Linked DNA regions of Homo sapiens. The protein of the gene in region 1 purifies or fractionates together with the protein of each later gene. This does not show direct contact. Each region holds a gene or a part of one and is shown on either strand. Other genes may lie near its edges.

Region 1 (5,163 bases):
TCCCCCGCCCCCACTCTCCAGGAATCCCATATTTGTCATACTGAAATTAGTCATCTTCAAATTACAAAATCTGGCAAAAGGCATAATAACCTCACAGTGTTGGTGATATGCACACTCATATGAAACAGGAAGAGAAAAGCCTATAACTCATGACCCAGAAAGAAGGGTTTTGATAACTTTGGTTAGCTGGTGCTTCTGAGGGCAACTTCCTACTCTTTGTGGTATGGTTTCTTCTCTCTTATAATCTTTATTGTAAATGGCTTTTTATTTTGAGCTCAGGAGGATCTTTGGCTTCTAGTTAGAGCAAAGCTTAGAAAATAGAAAAGAAAGGGGCTCTAGCATAATTGAAAGATGTAGAATAAAAATTCAAAATTCTCAAATTTGGTGTGGGGTCTGGCTAATAAAAATCTGAGGCAAAAAGTTTTCTTTCTTTTTCTACCTTAGTTTTCTTTTCTTTTTCTTTCTTTTCTTTTCTTTTTTTTTTTTTTTGAGACGGAGTTTTGCTCTTGTTGCCCAGGCTGGAGTGCAATGGCACGGTCTCGGCTCACCGCAACCTCTGCTTCCCAGGTTCAAGCGTTTCGCCTGCCTCAGCCTTCCTGAGTAGCTGGGATTGCAGACATGTGCCGCCATGCCTGGCTAATTTTGTGTTTTTAGTAGAGACGGGTTTTCTCCATGTTGGTCAGGCTGGTCTCGAACTCCCAACCTCAGGCGATCCGCCCGCCTCGGCCTCTCAAAGTGCTGGGATTTACAGGCATGAGCCACCATGCCCGGCCTATTTGTCCTTCTTTTTAAAAAACTTCTATTATAAAGAAATTTAAGTATGCAAAAGTAGAGAAAATAGTTTAATGAATTCTGATATACCCATCAACCAGTTGAAACAATCAGTTCTTCATCAGTCTTACTTCATATATATGCCCACCCATTCCTTTCACCCCTGTAATTATGTTAAAACAATTTCAGATGTCATTTTATCTGTAACTATTTTAACACTGACCTCTAAAATAAATATATATTTATACATATAACTGTAATGCCATTGCCATAACAACAGCCTTAATATTAATTCCTTAATATTGTAAAATACCATTATCACACCTAAAAACTTAACAGAATTAATTAATATTATTAAATATCATTATCACACCTAAAATAAACAGTACTTACTTGATATTATTTAATATCCAGTCAGTGTTCAATAGTCTTGATTGTTTCATTTTTACAGTAGATTTAATGATCCAAATAAAGTTCATACACTGAAATTTATTATAAGTCTCTCAACTTTTTAATGCCATAGGGTCCCACTCATCTCTTTTTTCCCATTACAGTTATTCATTTGCCCGAGAGTTTAGTTCAGTTTGCTTATCTCTAAAATGGTACATAAAAGTCAACATTTTTGATAAATGGATGATTATGAAAGATCTGTATATTTCATTTGTTAAAAAAAAAAGGATTAGATCTCTTCTAACGCCATTAAGAAATATTCATTCCTCCAAAATCTAAAATAAATGAAAAATCTGTTTTTTTTTTAATGACCTGTGAAGTTTATTTTCCTTATCTGAGAACTTTAGATGTAGGCAGGTCCTTAGAAATAATGTAATTATGTGTTTAAAGTTTGAAAGCTAAAATCTGTGGTAAGAAGTCCGCTAGAGATCCACTAATGCATTATTGAGCCATAATTTGAAAAATACTGTTCTAATCAAATTGCCTTGTTATGTAGATGAGGAAACTGCATCAGAGAAGGATGTGACATGCTCAAGGTAACCCAGAGAATATATATAAGACAGGAGACTGGAACTTCTAACTTTTAGTTAATGCAGGGGCTAGGGATCAGATAGCCCAGATTCAAGTCCTGGTTCTGCATTCATGCGCTTAAGCAAATTATTTTTGTCTCTTTCTTGTGATCTACAAAATAAGGACAATAATATCATCTGCCTCAAAGTGTTAGGATGATTAAATGAAATGTGTAAACTCCTGAGCACAGTGCCTGGCATGTGTTAATTTTTATTAATTATTATTTATTTCATTGTAACAGATAGATACTAGTATATAATACTTTTCCAAAAAAAAAAAAAGAAAAAAAACTGAAAGAGTAACAAATCCCAACTATTTAAATTGCAACATCTTACTTGATTTTGCAATATCTCAGTTTTATCCCCAACCATTTTTTCTCTCCACACCCTAAAAGACAGGATACTTATACCTTGCTTTGAAAATTTTGTTACGTGCTCAGGATAATTGTTAAGATTTAAGAAAAAATATCATTAGGATTAAGAATAAGTGTTATTTCCCTCGTATGTTTTGAAAAATGGTAATATAATTGCTTCTATTTTTCTGATAGAAAAAAGCATTTAGGATTTATTTATTTATTTATTTATTTATTTATTTATTTATTTTTTGAGACAGGGTATCACTCCTTTGGCCCAGGCTGCTGGAGTGTGGTGGCGTGATCTCGACTCATCGCAGGCTCACCTAGGCTCAGGTGATCCTCCCACCTCAGCCTCCCAAGTAGCTGGGACCACAGGTGTGCATCACCATGCTGGGCTGACTTTTTTGTATTTTTCATACAGACTGGATTTTGCTATGTTGCCCTGGTCTGGAACTCCTAGGCTCAAGGGATCCTCCCGCCTCAGCCTTCCAAAGTGCTAAGATTATGGGCATAAGCCACTATACCCAGCCCAGTTTTATTTTTTTCTAATTAAGGATATTTGTGGGGAATCTACCCTAAATGAATGATGAAAATTAATACCTGTGGTATAAAAAATCAAATTATAGCATGAGACTATGAAATTGAATGCAACCATAGAAAATAAGAAACAAACCACAATTTATGGAGGTGTTAAACATTTCTTGGTAGGATTCACCACATTCTTGAAGTGAAATAAGGAATAAGGGAAAGTATTTGAAAATAGCCATAATTGAAGAAAAGGAGATGAATGTGGGCACAGTGAAGATATTTAAGGAGAAAATGACTGTAGGGATTTAAATATTCTCTGTCATGATTCTCTTGCTTCTTATGGTGTAGATGCCTTATTGGAGGAACTGGAACGCTCCACCCTTCAGGACAGTGATGAATATTCCAACCCAGCTCCTCTTCCCCTGGATCAGCATTCCAGAAAGGAGACTAACCTTGATGAGACTTCGGAGATCCTTTCTATTCAGGATAACACAAGTCCCTTGCCGGTAAATTTTCATTTATTATAGTCCTTAAACATGGATGTTTGAGTGCATTTCTGAAAATTAACAGAATCCCACATAAAATAATATGAAAGGAGAATAATATATCCAAGAAAGAGAAAAAATAATGCCTCAATGTTAATCTAAAGATGTTTTTGGAAAGAGGAAGAGAATTGAGAAAATCATCACAGAGGAATGAGTTTTTGAGAACTAAATTTTTTTTATTTTTTTTATTTTTTTTATTTTTTTTTTATTTTTTGAGACAGAGTCACACTCTGTCTCCAAGGCTGGAGTGCAGTGGCACAATCTCGGCTCACTGCAACCTTCACCTCCCAGGTTCAAGCGATTCTCCTGCTTCAGCCTCCCAAATAGCTAGGATTACAGGCACGCACCACCATGCCCAGCTAATTTTTGTATTTTTAGTAGAGACGGGTTTTGTCATGTTGGCCAGGCTGGTCTCAAACTCCTGACCTGAGGTGATTCACCCGCCTTGGCCTCCCAAATTGCTGGGATTACAGGCATGAGCCATCACGCCCAGCCGAGAACTACATTTTTTCTAATGAGCACATGGTCACAGGCAGAGTATTGCATTCACTGGGGATATTCTGATGTTACTGTGGGGGCATCAGAGATGCCTGTTGCAGTTTGACTGGAATGGTACTCAGGCCAGAGATCACCTGAGGAAGGCCAGGTGGCAGCATAGACAAGTCTTCTCAGGGTGACTTTTTAGGGTCACTACTTCCCAGGTCTTATTTTCTGCTGAATAGATTAGGAGATTCAATTATTAGTTTATATAGAGATGATGAAGCTCTAGGGAACCAACTCAAACTAACCAAATTGACAAGTGATTATATATATATTTTAAAAACCTAGGGCAGGTGCAGTGGCTCAGGCCTGTAATTTCAGCACTTTGGAAGGCTGAGGCGGGGGGATCACTTGAAGCCAGGAGTTTGAGACCAGCCTGGGCCATATGGTGAGACCCCCATCTCTACGAAAAATTAAAAAATGAGCAGGGTGTGGTGGTGCGTGCCTATGGTCCCCGCCACTCAGGTGGCTGAAGCAGGAGGATTGCTTAAGCCCAGGTGGTCGAGGCTGCAGTGAGCTATGATTGCGCCACTCCATCCCAGCCTGGGCGACAGAATGAGAGCTTGTCTCAAAAAACAAACAAACAAAAAAAAAACAAAACTCAGAAATCAAATTTACAGTTAAAGCTATCAAGTAAAACAGCTATATTTACTCATATATGCATTCTCTTCCTATGGATAAGTCTATATGGACGTACATTATAATTAAAAGGTTGCTTGATGAGAATGGAATTAGTGTAAGATGAATTAAGTAGATGCTCTTCATAGCTGGTAATTTTGTACTATGATATTTTGATTCATCATTGTTCCCTGTATGAAATAGCCAGAAGCACAGACCTGAAATTTGAGCTCAGGGGTAGTTTACGCCCTAACTGTTCTTTTCTCCAGACACATACACAATTTTAACGATACGAATTTATCTCTCTACTAGGGAACTATTGTCTTTGTTCTCAGTGTTAGATTATAGCTGTAGGCTCCTAAGTGGTCTCCTGCCCTTTGCCCCACTGCAGTCTGTTCTCAAGCAGCCAGGGTCACCTTTAAAAACTAAAGTCAGACCCTGTCATTCTTCTACTCAAAACCCCAAAATGACTCCCATCTCATTTGGAGTAAAAGCCATAGTTTCATGTTGATCTTTCTGGGGTGACCATATATCCTGGTTTACCTGAAAGAGTCCTGGGTTTATGCTTGTTTTTCTCACATCCTATTAACTTTACTTTTTACCCCAGATCTTCAATTTTATTTAAAGTTTTCTTATCAGTATTTGCATTAAGTAAGCCACTATGGCTTAACAGACCTCCTTCCAGCTTCTTCCATGGTCTCATCTAGCAGCGTATGAAACACATATTCAGTGAACAGTGCTCTTTTTTTTTTTTTTGAGATGGAGTCTCTTTCTGTCGTGCAGGCT
Region 2 (4,331 bases), on another chromosome or scaffold:
GGAAAAAGTCATGGCTGTAAAAAAAAATTGCCTCAAATCAAGAATAAGCAGTCCCCAATTTATCAATAAGCTGCATTCCAAAACTTCAGCTTTAACTGGATTGTTTGGTACCCAAACACCTAAGTCAATGGTAGTTAAGTTCTGAGGTTAGCCCCTAAAAGTCCATTTAATTAATATACTGAATGTGCAGAATTAAGTCTATCTTAACAAATCTAAACATTAACTAAAACACAGTTTCTGATGAAAAATATTTTGAATTCCAAGTAGAAGCACCGCATGCTTCTCTCCTTGACAGTGGCAGTTTTTCAACCTAGCAGCACAGTGAGGGTGACTAATGAGTGGAATCCAGTAAAGATAGGTCCCCTGAATTGATAATTTTTCAACTCCTGTTCATTTACAGAAAAACTTTTCTTAATTTATGCCTTGTTTTTCTAGCCCTGGGGTACAAAAAAGGGGAAGAACAGAAGAGTAGCACAGGGTGCAATAACCTCATTTACTTAAGATGTCATTTGTTTGGACTAGCTGTTTGTAAACTAAGGGCAATGTATAAAGTAGTCTAAAAGTCCAGATGGATTCTTCACAGTTGGAAGGACCTAAATGCCTTTAAAAAAAAAAAAGTTAATTGAGTAACAGGATGGTCTAAGTTCCAGGTTTACTCACTCAGCTGCGTCTTTCTTCTCTTCCTTATCGTCTTTCTCTTGTTTACATGCTGGGCTGGAAGTCTGAACCCCTTGGGAAGTGACCTCAGGTCCCCTCTTGTGCTCCGTGTTACTAAGTATTGAAGGGGAAATGCTGGGGCTATTCGGCTTGCTGCTGCCACTGGTACAGTTGCTGCTGCTATTTTCAATGAAAGAATCCTTAGCACTTGGTTCAATTTTGTCTTTGATCAAATCTCTTGATTTTTCTCCCTCTCTATTTTTGTTTAGTAGTTGATCCATAGATTCAGAAGTAGAACTTGGCTGTAACTAAATAAAGGAAACAATTATACTTAAATATCTTAAATAACTTTAGTAATACATTTTTGCCATGAGCACAAGCTACGTAATATTAACTATACGCATGAAATGTTCTGAATAAGGCTTTTTTCATACTTTAAGAGTAATGCTTTTACTATAAACTAACAATAACAGAGTACCTATATAGCACAACCACAGTCACCAAAGCACTCAAATGTCCTAGCCTCTAAAGTTCAATATTTACTGAGTGCTTACCACATGTCAGAAATTGTGCCTGCTGGGTGAGAAAAATATGAAATAGTTTCTATCCTCTTATACTTGTCATTTAAATAAGATCAGACACTTCACAATAAAATGAGTAAATGCTAAGAGAGTCTATAGAAAAAGCAACCTATAAAAAAGAAAGGTTTCTCAGTAAAGTGTCAGCTAGTCTAAGGTGTGAAAGAAGTTTAGGAAAGGTGTTGGGATGGAGAATAGTCTAAGTAAAAGGAAGAGTATGTTTAAAAATCCAAAGAAAAGGGAGAAGCTGGCTCTATCACATAAAACAATAGCACCAATGGGGGCCGGGCACGGTGGCTCACGCCTGTAATCCCAGCACTTTGGGAGGCCAAGGCAGGCGGATCACGAGGTCAGGAGATCGAGACCATCTTGGCTCACACGCTGAAACCCCATCTCTACTAAAAATACAAAAATTAGCCAGGCATGGTGGCAGGCGCCTATAGTCCCTGCTACTCGGGAGGCTGAGGTAGGAGAATGGTGTGAACCTGGGAAGTGGAGCTGCAGTGAGCCAAGATCACGCCACTGCACTCCAGCCTGGGTGACAGAGCGAGACTCCGTCTCAAAAAAAAAAAAAAAGATAGCACCAATGAGCTGGGCACAGTAGCTCATCACTGTAATTCCAGCCCTTTGGGAGGCTGAGACAAGCAGACTGCTTAAGCTCAGGAGTTCAAGACCAGCCTGGGCAACATAGTGATACCCTGTCTCATTTAAAAAATAATAATAAAATAAAATAAAATAACAAAAATAAAGAAGTAAAGAAAAGCACCAATGGCTGGACCAAGGGTGAGACACACATGTACAAGTGAGTCAGAAAATGATAGACTCGTCAAAAGGAATATGACAATAAAGGAACTTAAAAGCTATGTTCAGGGCTGCGTGCAGTGGCTAACACCTATCATCCTAGCACTTTGGGAAGCCAAGGCAGGTGGATCACTTGAGGTCAGGAGTTTAAGACCAGACTGGCCAACATGGTGAAACTCCGTCTCTACTAAAGATAAAAAAAAAAAATTAGCCAGGCGTGATGGCACACGTGTAAATCCCAGCTACTTGGGAGGCTGACATATGAGAATTGCTTGAACCCAGGAGGCGGAGGTTGCAGTGAGCCAAGATCACACCACTGCACTCCAGCCTGGGTGACAGAGCAAGACTCCATCTAAAAATTAAAAAAAAAAAAAAAAAAGTTTTAAAAAGCTACGTTTAGGACTTTGGCTTTTAATTCTCAGGGCAAATGGGCAGTCTATACGGAATTTTAAGTAGGGTAGAGTACTGGGCAGATTTATAGTTCAGAAAGGTGAACACAGCAGCTTTGTGTGAAATGAACTGGAGGGAGGCTAATTAGGATGTGGAGGGACCGTCATGGAGGCTGGACTAAGCGCTGGGCCTAGTCAGCTTGGAAGGTCATTAAGTAGGTGAATTCAGAATGAGACCTGACTGTACATATTGGTCAGTTAGACATTCTAAACCCCTAAGTAAAAAAAGGAGATGGCAGGGGAGAAGAGACAGAGCATGGTGGCCAAACAGAACCTTCCAGTGATCATCCCCAACAAGGAGCACCAAATTGAACAACTATCCACACAAGAAAGCACCTTCATAAGAACCAAAAATTAGGTAAGCGATCACAGTACCCAGTTTTGACATCCTATCAAGGAAAAAGACACCAAAAAAGATAAGGAAGATAGTCTTGAACTGCCCCTCCAACACCCCTGACATTCCCCCACAATGCAGTGTGGGGTGGAGAAAGAATCTGTGTGCTCGGGGGAGAGAGAGAGAAATGACTGTGGGATTTTGCATTGAAACTCAGTGCTGCCCTGTCACAGTGGAAAGCAGCATAGGACAGAATTCAGCCAGCACCCACAGAGGGAGTATTTAGACTAGCCCTAGTCAGAGGGGAATTGTCCATCCCAGTGATTAGAATCTGAATTTCGGGCTGGGCACTATGGTCTGTAATCCCAGCACTTTGGGAGGCCGAGGCGGACGGATAACCTGAGGTCGGGAGTTCAAGACCAGCCTGACCAACATGGAGAAACCTCATCTCTACTAAAAAACAAAAAAATTAGCCAGAGGTGGTAGCGCATGCCGGTAATCCCAGCTACTCAGGAGGCTGAGGTAGGAGAATTATTTGAACCCGGGAGGCGGAGGTTGTGGTGAGCTGAGATTGCGTCACTATACTCCAGCCTGGGCAATAAGAGCGAAACTCTGCCAAAAAAAACCAAAAGAATCTTAATTTTGGTAAGCCCCACCACCGTGGGTAAAGTCCTCTGGGGTCCTAAATAAACTTGAAAGGCAGTCTAGACCAGAAGGACTGCAATTCCTGGACAAGTCATGGTACTGTGCTGGGCTCATAGTCAGTGGACTTGGGGTACATGTGACCCACTGAGACACCAGCTAGGGTGGCCAAGGGAGTGCTTGTGCCAGCCTTCCCCCAACTCCAGGTACCACAGCTCACAGCTCTGGGAGGAGAGGGAAGAGTAGGGAGGACTTTGTCTTGCAATGTGGATACTAGTTCAGCCACAGTAAAATAAAGCACCAAGCATAGTTCTGAAGCCTCAATTCTAGGCCATAGCTCCCAGATGACATTTCTAGACATATTCTGGACCAGAAGGGAACCCATTGCCTTGAAGGGAAATACCTAGTCCTAGTAGGATTCACCACCAGCTGACTAAAGAGCCCTTGTGCCTTGAATAAAAAACAAGGTGCCATGTCGTATTGTGCCAGCTTCAGATATGACCCCGCACATTCACAGCTGTGGTGTCCATGGGGAGACCCACCTGCTTGAGGTGAGAGAAGAGTAAAAAGGACTTTATCTTGCAAGTGGGTGCCAGCTCAGCCCCAGTACAATAAAGCAGATTCCTAAAGCTCCCGATCCCAGGCCCTGGCTCCTGGGCAGCATTTCTAGACACACCCTGGGCCAGAAGGGAACCTGCTGCACTGAAAGTAAAGACCCAGTTCTTGCAGGATTCTTCACCTACTGACTAAAGCACCCTTGGGCCTTAAATTAACATCAGTGGTGGCCAGAAAATAGCTGCCACAGGCCTTGGGTGAGACCAAGTACAGTTCCAGTGACGGTGGCCATGGCAGTGCTTGTGTCACCCTTCC
Region 3 (4,975 bases), on another chromosome or scaffold:
AACAGCAAAGAGAAACAGCTTAGTACCTAAGATCCCATGCTCTGGCACTGACAGGCCTGGGTTTGAATACGAGCTCAGGCACTAAATAATCCTGTGGCCTTAAGCCATTTGCTTAACTTCTTTGAGACTCAGTTCCATTCTGAAATTGAGGGCAGTAATATTTGAAAATCAGGACAATAATATTTGGTTGAACCATATGAAACCGTCATTTAACCATTTTCCAACCTTCAAAATGGCCATTTCATATATCACATCATGCAGGGCTTTTTGAGAATTAAAGGAGATATTACAAAAGCCTGGTGCACACTAAGTACTCAATAAATGACTGTTATTGTTGTAATCAGCAAACAAAGGCAAACCAATAGCATCTAGAACATAAAAGGAGATGTGGCCCAAAGATGTGCTCACGAGGCTGGGCACGGTGGCTCAAGCCTGTAATCCCAGCACTTTGGGAGGTGGAGGCAGGCGGCTTACCTGAGGTCAGGAGTTCAACCAGACTGGCCAACATGGTGAAACCCTGTCTCTACTAAAAATACAAAAATTAGCCAGGTGTGGTGGCGCATGCCTGTTAATCCCAGCCACTTGGGAGGCTAAGGCAGGTGAACTGCTTGAACCCTGGAGGCGGAGGTTGTAGTGAGCTGAGATTGCACCACTGCACTCCAGCCTGGGCAACAGAGCGAGACTCTGGCTCAAAAAAAAAAAAAAAAAAAAAAAAAAAAGATGTGCTCACTACCAGATCTAACTCTGGAGATCTGGAGAGGAGGTCATATGATTTTTAAAGTTATTTTAGAACATTGAACAAAAGGGTATATAGTGCAAAGTAAGGCTTCTTCCCATGCCTGTACTTCAGCCATAGTTCTCCCCAGCGGCAACCACTGTTACAGGTTTCTGTGTGTTCTCTCAGAGATATTCAGAGCATCTACAGGCATTCATATGTATGTGGCATTCACACACCCACCCAAAAATCGTGGCCCACCATACACACTGTACTCAACAATATAACTTAGAGATATTCCTACATCAAAGTATATATCTGCCACATTTTCTCTGCACGCTTTATAACAGCTTTAATGTATCCTATCGTGTGGCTTTTACATGATCTTATTGAAGGGTTCCTTATTGATGGACATCTAGATTGTTTCCAACCTTTTGCTAAACAATGCTGCAATGAATATTCAATGATGTACACCATTTCATATACATCAGAGTATATCTGAAGGATAAAGTCCCAGAAAATGGAATTTAGGGGTAAATGATGTACACTTTAAATTGCCAGACATTTCTTTGGATTTTTTTTTTTCTATCAGGAATGGGAGGAACATGCTCTCCCCTACAGCTGGTGACTTCTGAAGAGGGCAGAAGAGGCTCCACATTTTTTCAGCTTAGTTGTTAGTTTCAATGAGTTTGGGGCCACAGGCTGCACCCCACAATTGCCCAACTCTGAGCAGGCCCCCTCAGCAGTCTATGGGAAGGTGGTAGAAGTGGACTGAACCATACGTTAGGAATTTAGGAGGCTTGGGTTTCAGTTATGGCTCTTCCACTTTTTAGCTATGTGACCATGGGCATATCACAACAATTTTTTTTTTAACAGACAGGATCATCAGCCTCCCAAGTTAGCTGGGACTACAGGCCCACACCACCACACCCAGCTAATTTTTAAATTTTTATTTATTTGTAGACACAGGGTCTCCCTATGTTGCCCAGGCTGGTCTTGAACTCCTGGCATCAAGCTCTCCTCCTGCCTTGGCTTCCCAAAGTGCTGGGATTACAGGCATAAGCCACTGCAACTGGCCTAAATCACAACTTTTCAGAGTCCCAGCTTCCTCCTTTGGAAAAATGGGGCCAATAATATGCAGAAACACTAATACCGATGTTCTATAAAGCGTTCAGTGATGGTACTAGCCCTATACACAGTGTCTGTCACATAGAAGACAGTCCAAACAGTTTGATGAAGGAACTGATAATTCTCCCACTGAATTTTTTAAATGGTCTTTCAAGTGTTTTACCTGAACCAAGGCTCTGTCTTGGAAGAGTTTTATGAGGTGGATTCATAGTAAAAGCTATGGAGGAGATATCCTGGCAAGCAGAAATCCCACAAGGAGAGGAGTTTCCTTCCAGATGAGGCTCTTCACCGCCTCTGCCACCCCCACTAAGGCCCCTGGTTCCTGGTGACCGAGTCCTCGCTAAGACTCCTAGGACACAATGCTCTGTGTCATTCGGCGCCCAACCTGTTTTCTTTTCTGCTTGAATGACCTGCTCCTAGGAGTCGAGCCTGAGCCATAGGGTCCCAAAGACAACACTCAGAAATCACAGAAGAAATAACCTGAGGTGAGATGGGGAGGGGTGCGGGAAGGGGTGAAAGGGAGCGAGCACCGATAGCAAGGTGGCAGCCTGCACGTCCGCTCCGAGGGCCCTTCCCAGGAGCGGCTGGATCTGACCGATCCCCAAGTCCAGGTACTCCCGGGGGAGGCTCCTCCTGGCCTCGCGGCGCGAGTCCCCTGGGGCGCCCGGCTTCCCAAGCCAGACCCGCGCTCCAGCGCTCCCCGCCGCTGGGAGCTCGCTTCCAGGTAGGGAGGCACCTGCTCCGGATCGTCCTCTGGGCCCGAGGGGCCGTCCCCCGCGCGCAGCCTGACGCCCTCCGCCGCGGCGCAGCCCCAGCCCACCACAGCGGCGGGAGCGCGGGTCGCTCACCTCCAGCGAGCTCGCGGCCGTCCCCGCCGCGCACTGGGCACACGGGCGCCCTCGGGCCGCCGCCGCAGCCGACCTTGCGTCGCTCTCGCCGGAGTCCCGGGCTGCCGCCGGTTCTCCCCTCCCCGGCAGCAGGGGTCGTGGGCTGCGGGGCGGGGCGAGGCTGGAGCGGGAGGGGTGCCCGCGGGCTCGCTGCACAAAGCCCGGCCGAGCCTTGCTGCGCCCCATTCAACGCTCCGCCGGGCGCCCTCCTCCCCTCGGCTCCCCGCCCGCTCCTTAAAGGCAGAGCGCTGGGCTCAGCTCTCCAGGCAGCTCGCGGAGAGGCACAGGAAATGACCTCAGCAGGCTCCAGCCTCCCACTTCTCCGCACCGCTGGGCTCGTCCCTGGGGCGGCAGGGAGGGCGGCGGGGTGTCCCGGGCGCCGGCCCGGAGCTCTCCGAGGAGGCCGCACCAGCTGCCGCAAGGGGTGGCCAGAGCGCCCCGGGGATCTGCTTGACCCCAAATAGCGGGGGACCCTCGCGGGCTGCGGGACAAGACCAGACCGTCTCCGCCAAAGGTTCCAGCATTCTCCTGGCCACCTGTGGGAACTGTAACGTCTGGATATTTGGAACAGAAGTCCATATTTCAGTCTGGCAGACCAAATGTTCTGAGTTGCAATTTGCAGGAGAAAAAGAAAAAATAAGTTACGACAGCCCAGAGAGTAACTTACTTGCTTATTTTCTGGTCTCGCTATGTTGCCCAGGCTGGACTCGAACTCCGGAGCTCAAGTGATCTTCCCGCCTGGGCCTCCAGGCCGGCTTATGTATATGTTATTTTAAAGGAGGGCCCAGGAGGACCCTGGCTGCCAGGCAGTTTGCAGGGCAGTCATCAGCGTGCCCATGTGCTCCTCGTTCTCAGACATTTGCAGATCTCAGATCGCCCAAAGCAATCTCATACCCAGAGGGGTTGGAAAACTCAACATTTGGCTAGGTGAGCCTGGAGTAAAGAAGATGCAAATAGAGACCATTGCAGGGAGGGATCCACACTTCAAAACAGAGCCTTCTTCCTCAACCCTGCAGGCTCTCTGTCAGTGAAGGACTGAACAGAAGCAAAATACCATCAGCGCCTGTTTCTCCAAATGGTCCTTGGAAGACTCATCCCAGGCACCATGAAGAACACCCCCACCCTGGGTTTGAATCTGAATCTCTAACTAAAGTACCCCAGGCCATTCTCACGTAGAAGTTTTGAGAGCCCAGACACTAAGGAAAGCTGGTAGTGCAGGAGGCCAAACGTGAGAATTTAACTGGGCCAATGGGACTTCAATGGCTGAACTTGCAAACAGCTTTATAGCTCGTGGGGATTGGGATAGATTAGCCCCATTTTGTGGGACAATGCTCAGGCTATCCACTTCAACATTCCAGAAGTTGCATAAGGAAGCCCAAAAACACGTTCTCTGGATTTTGCTAAGAAGACATTAATTCATTCATTCACTTTTTTTTTTTTTTTTTTTTTGGACATAGGTTCTTCTTGTTCTGTTCTCCAGGCTGGATTGCAGTGGCACAATCATAGCTCACTGTAACTTGAACTCCTGGGCTCAAGCAATCCTCCCATCTCAGCCTCATGAACAGCTGGGACTATAGGCACATGCTACTATACCCAGCAAAAAAAAAAAAAAAAATTTTTTTTTTTTTTTAGTAGAGGTGGGGTCTCAAACTCCTGGACTCAAGAAATCCTCCTGCCTCGGCCTCCCAAAGTGCTGGGATTACAGGGATGAGCCACCGCACCTCGGCCCAGAACTCATTTAATATAACTTTGTTATATAGTGAAAAGAGACGCACCATGGAGAGTGGAATGGGAGGAGCATGCTCTCCCCTATAGCTGGTTACTTCTGTAGAGGGCAGAAGAGACTCCACATTTTTTTCAGCTCAGTTGTTACTTTCAATGAGTTTGGGGCCATAGAGTGCATCTCACCATTGCCCAACTCTGAGCAGGACCCCTTGGCAGTCTGTGGGAGGGTGGTAGAGGTGGACTGAACCCTACATTAGGAATTTAGGAGGCTTGAGTTTCAGTTATGTCTCTTCCACTTTTTAGCTATGTGACTTGGGCAAGTTACAACTTTTGTTGTTGTTGTTGTTTTCTTTTAAGAGATAAGATCTTGCTCTGTTGCCTAAGCTAGAATGCAGTGGCAATCATAGCTCATTGCAGCCCAGAACTCCTAGGCTCAAGCAGTCCTTCTGCCTCAGCCTCCCAGGTAGCTGGGACTATAATACCCACCATCACCCCTAGAGCCCCTTTCTTTGGATATTAG
Region 4 (4,331 bases), on another chromosome or scaffold:
GCTCTCATTCTCCTCCTTCCTGCCACTATGTGGAGAAGAATGTGCCTGCTACCCCTTCCACCATAATTCTAAGTTTCCAGAGGCCTCCCCATCTCTGTGGACCTGTGAGTAAATTAAACCTCTTTTCTTTATGAATTACTCAGTCTGGGGCAGTTCTTTACAGCAGCATGAGAATGGACTAATACAGATTCTAAGTGGAATACATAAGGAAGAAAGCAGAGCAGCAGAGGAGGAATGTGGGCAGGTAGATCAATGAGGTAAAAGAGGTCCCACATTCAGGGGCGGCAGTAAGAACAGAGAAGAGGCAAGAAATCTGTGACAGATATCAAAGGCAAGAGTAACCAGACTGGGATAAACAACTGTATACGGAGGCCAAAAATGGAAAAAGATGGCATAACTTTTTTTTTTTTTTTGAGGCTCTGTCACCCAGGCTAGAGTGCAGTTGTGCCATCACAGCTCACGGCAACTCTACCTCCCAGGCTCAGGTGATCCTCCCACCTCAGCCACCCGAGTAGCTAGGACTACAAGCACACGCCACCATACCCAGCTAATTTTTGTATTTTTTGTAGAGACGGGGTTTCACCACATTGGGCATGTTGCCCAAGCTGGTCTTGAACTCCTAGGCTCAAGTGATCTGCCCACCTTGGCCTCCTAAAGTGCTGGGATTACAGGCGTGCACCATCGCACCTGGCTGGGGTAACTTTTTTCCCCAACATTAATTCCTTTCCCTAGTTCTGCAAGTGGTACCACATCCTTATCTAAATCAAAAATCCTTATAAAAAAGAAAATCTGGCTCTCCCTCTCCCCTCTCCCCTCTTTCCACGGTCTCCCTCTGATGCCGAGCCGAAGCTGGACTGTACTGCTGCCATCTCGGCTCACTGCAACCTCCCTGCCTGATTCTCCTGCCTCAGCCTGCCGAGTGCCTGCGATTGCAGGCGCGCGCCGCCACGCCTGACTGGTTTTCGTATTTTTTGGGTGGAGACGGGGTTTCGCTGTGTTGGCCGGGCTGGTCTCCAGCTCCTAACCGCGAGTGATCTGCCAGCCTCGGCCTCCCGAGGTGCCGGGATTGCAGACGGAGTCTCCTTCACTCATTGCTCAATGGTGCCCAGGCTGGAGTGCAGTGGCGTGATCTCGACTTGCTACAACATCCACCTCCCAGCAGCCTGCCTTGGCCTCCCAAAGTGCCGAGATTGCAGCCTCTGCCCGGCCCCACCCCGTCTGGGAAGTGAGGAGCGTCTCTGCCTGGCCGCCCATCGTCTGGGATGTGAGGAGCCCCTCTGCCTGGCTGCCCAGTCTGGAAAGTGAGGAGCGTCTCTGCCCAGCCGCCATCCCATCTAGGAAGTGAGGAGCGCCTCTTCCCGGCCGCCATCCCATCTAGGAAGTGAGGAGCGTCTCTGCCCGGCCGCCCATCATCTGAGATGTGGGGAGCGCCTCTGCCCTGTCGCCCCGTCCGGGATGTGAGGAGCGTCTCTGCCCGGCCGCACCATCTGAGAAGTGAGGAGACCCTCTGCCTGGCAACCGCCCTGTCTGAGAAGTGAGGAGCCCCTCCGCCCAGCAGCCGCCCCGTCTGAGAAGTGAGGAGCCCCTCCGCCCGGCAGCCACCCCGTCTGGGAAGTGAGGAGCATCTCTGCCGGGCAGCCACCCCGTCCAGGAGGGAGATGGGGGGGTCAGCCCCCCGCCTGGCCAGCCGCCCCGTCCGGGAGGGAGGTGGGGGGATCAGCCCCCCGCCCGGCCAGCCGCCCCGTCCGGGAGGCGAGGGGCGCCTCTGCCCGGCCGCCCCTACTGGGAAGTGAGGAGCCCCTCTGCCTGGCCAGCCGCCCCGTCCGGGAGGGAGGTGGGGGGGTCAGCCCCCTGCCCAGCCAGCCGCCCCGTCCGGGAGGTTGGGGGGTCAGCCCCCCGCCCGGCCAGCGCCCCATCTGGGAGGTGAGGGGCGCCTCTGCCCGGCCGCCCCTACTGGGAAGTGAGGAGCCCCTCTGCCCGGCCAGCCGCCCCGTCCGGGAGGGAGGTGGGGGGGGTCAGCCCCCCGCCTGGCCAGCCGCCCCGTCCGGGAGGGAGGTGGGGGGGGTCAGCCCCCCGCCCGGCCAGCCGCCCCATCCGGGAGGTGAGGGGCGCCTCTGCCCGGCCGCCCCTACTGGGAAGTGAGGAGCCCCTCTGCCCAGCCAGCCGCCCCGTCCGGGAGGGAGGTAGGGGGGTCAGCCCCCCGCCCAGCCAGCCGCCCCGTCCAGGAGGGAGGTGGGGGGGTCAGCCCCACCGCCCGGCCAGCCACCCCCTCCGGGAGGGAGGTGGGGGGGTCAGCCCCCCGCCCGGCCAGCCGCCCCGTCCAGGAGGTGAGGGGCGCCTCTGCCCGGCCGCCCCTACTGGGAAGTGAGGAGCTCCTCGGCCCGGCCAGCCGCCCCGTCTGGGAGGGAGGTTGGGGGGGTCAGCCCCCCGCCCGGCCAGCCGCCCCATCCAGGAGGTGAGGGGCGCCTCTGCCCGGCCGCCCCTACTGGGAAGTGAGGAGCCCCTCTGCCCGGCCACCACCCCGTCTGGGAGGTGTACCCAACAGCTCATTGAGAATGGGCCATGATGACAATGGTGGTTTTGTGGAATAGAAAGGGGGGAAAGGTGGGGAAAAGATTGAGAAATCGGATGGTTGCCGTGTCTGTGTAGAAAGAGGTAGACATGGGAGACTTTTAATTTTGTTCTGTACTAAGAAAAATTCTTCTGCCTTGGGATCCTGTTGATCTGTGACCTTACCCCCAACCCTGTGCTCTCTGAAACATGTGCTGTGTCCACTCAGGGTTAAATGGATTAAGGGCGGTGCAAGATGTGCTTTGTTAAACAGACGCTTGAAGGCAGCATGCTCGTTCAGAGTCATCACCACTCCCTAATCTCAAGTACCCAGGGACACAAACACTGCGGAAGGCCGCAGGGTCCTCTGCCTAGGAAAACCAGAGACCTTTGTTCACTTGTTTATCTGCTGACCTTCCCTCCACTATTGTCCTGTGACCCTGCCAAATCCCCCTCTGCGAGAAACACCCAAGAATGATCAATAAATAAATAAATAAATAAATAAAAAGAAAATCTGTTCATGTTTGAAAGATAAAAGAAGAAAAATTCTTCTCTGGATTACTGTAATGAGTAGACAGAATAATCTGAGGTAAAGACAAGTGAATTGATACATGGAAATCAAACAGTCTTAGGAAAGTCACTGGAGGAGGTAAAGGTAGAGCAGATGAACTGAAGAATAAGGATGTTGTTATAGGCTGAACTGTGCCCGCACAAAACACACAAAATTAATATGTTGAAGCCCTAACCCCAAAACCTCAAATGTGACTGCACCTGGAGACAGGATAATGAAGTTAAAGAGGTAATTAACGTAAGATGAAGTCATTAGGGTGGGCCCTAATCCAACATGACTGGCGTTCTTGTAAGAGGAGGAGATGAGGACACACACACAGAGGGAAGACACAGAGAAGGCAGCCATCTGCAAGACAAAAAAGAGATCTCAGGAGAAAGTAAATCTGCTAACACCCTCATTTCAGACTTCTGGCTTCCAGATTTGAGAAAATAAATTTCTGTGGCTTAAGCCATCCAGTCTGTGGTATTTTGTTATGACATCCCCAGCAAAATAAAATAAACGTACAAAGCCATACTGGGGCAGCTAATCCAGAGAGGTGATAACTGAATCCTGAGGTCAGGTAGCATCAGTCAGTAAGAAACTAAGTATACAAACACATGGAATCTCTCCCAGTACAATTCTAAAGGCAGGAAACAGGAAGACATGCAAATGGCAAGAGTATTTAATTTCCTTCCTACCACATAAGCTACAATGTTAAATGTGGTGATGACCCCAGGCTTGGGAGTAAAAGACCTTGCCTCACCACCAGCCTTGTGGCCTTGTCAAAACAGATCCCCAATAAATATTTACTGAGCAAATGAATGCATGGCCTTGGCCAAGACACTTAAGCTTTCTCATCTCTAAAATGAGGATACTAGTTCTCACAGGACTACAGGTGAGGATAAAATGAAATCATGCCTGTAAATCAGAAAGCAAGGACTTCAATATTCCTTCCTGTTAATCGCACCTATTATCATTAACAGGGAGGCCCAATCTGAAATGGAAGGAAGAATCTGCATAAAGCCAAAGCAAAAATGAAGACAGTAGGTAATCCTGGGCTAGGAGAGTCTAATACACACAAGAGGGGCTAAGAGCCTAAATTACGATGACAGAAAAGGATCTGATGTAATTTTTACAATTTGCCTTCATAAGCTTTATTACAAACACTTGATCTTATGTTTACTAGAAGTTTTAAAGTTCTTTTTCTATAAACGTAAGAAGTAAAATATGA

The links. The genes of interacting proteins can lie anywhere in the genome.
Region 2: the proteins of LPXN (region 1) and ATXN2 purify together in Homo sapiens (co-immunoprecipitation; 3 studies listed by BioGRID and IntAct, with this or other methods). This does not show direct contact.
Region 3: the proteins of LPXN (region 1) and PLEKHH1 purify together in Homo sapiens (co-immunoprecipitation; 3 studies listed by BioGRID and IntAct, with this or other methods). This does not show direct contact.
Region 4: the proteins of LPXN (region 1) and SPECC1L purify together in Homo sapiens (co-immunoprecipitation; 3 studies listed by BioGRID and IntAct, with this or other methods). This does not show direct contact.

The regions. Positions count from the first base shown.
Region 1 is NC_000011.10:58,568,573-58,573,735, reverse strand, and holds part of LPXN (leupaxin), read left to right. Parts: intron 1-3,022; coding exon 3,023-3,180; intron 3,181-5,163. UniProt on the Homo sapiens protein: Transcriptional coactivator for androgen receptor (AR) and serum response factor (SRF). Contributes to the regulation of cell adhesion, spreading and cell migration and acts as a negative regulator in integrin-mediated cell adhesion events.
Region 2 is NC_000012.12:111,487,816-111,492,146, forward strand, and holds part of ATXN2 (ataxin-2), read right to left. Parts: intron 966-4,331; coding exon 661-965; intron 1-660. UniProt on the Homo sapiens protein: Involved in EGFR trafficking, acting as negative regulator of endocytic EGFR internalization at the plasma membrane.
Region 3 is NC_000014.9:67,531,115-67,536,089, reverse strand, and holds the start of PLEKHH1 (pleckstrin homology domain-containing family H member 1), read right to left. Parts: upstream 2,801-4,975; 5' UTR 2,692-2,800; intron 2,455-2,691; exon of another isoform or gene 2,381-2,454; intron 2,329-2,380; exon of another isoform or gene 2,240-2,328; intron 1-2,239.
Region 4 is NC_000022.11:24,315,000-24,319,330, reverse strand, and holds part of SPECC1L (cytospin-A), read right to left. Parts: intron 1-4,331. UniProt on the Homo sapiens protein: Involved in cytokinesis and spindle organization. May play a role in actin cytoskeleton organization and microtubule stabilization and hence required for proper cell adhesion and migration.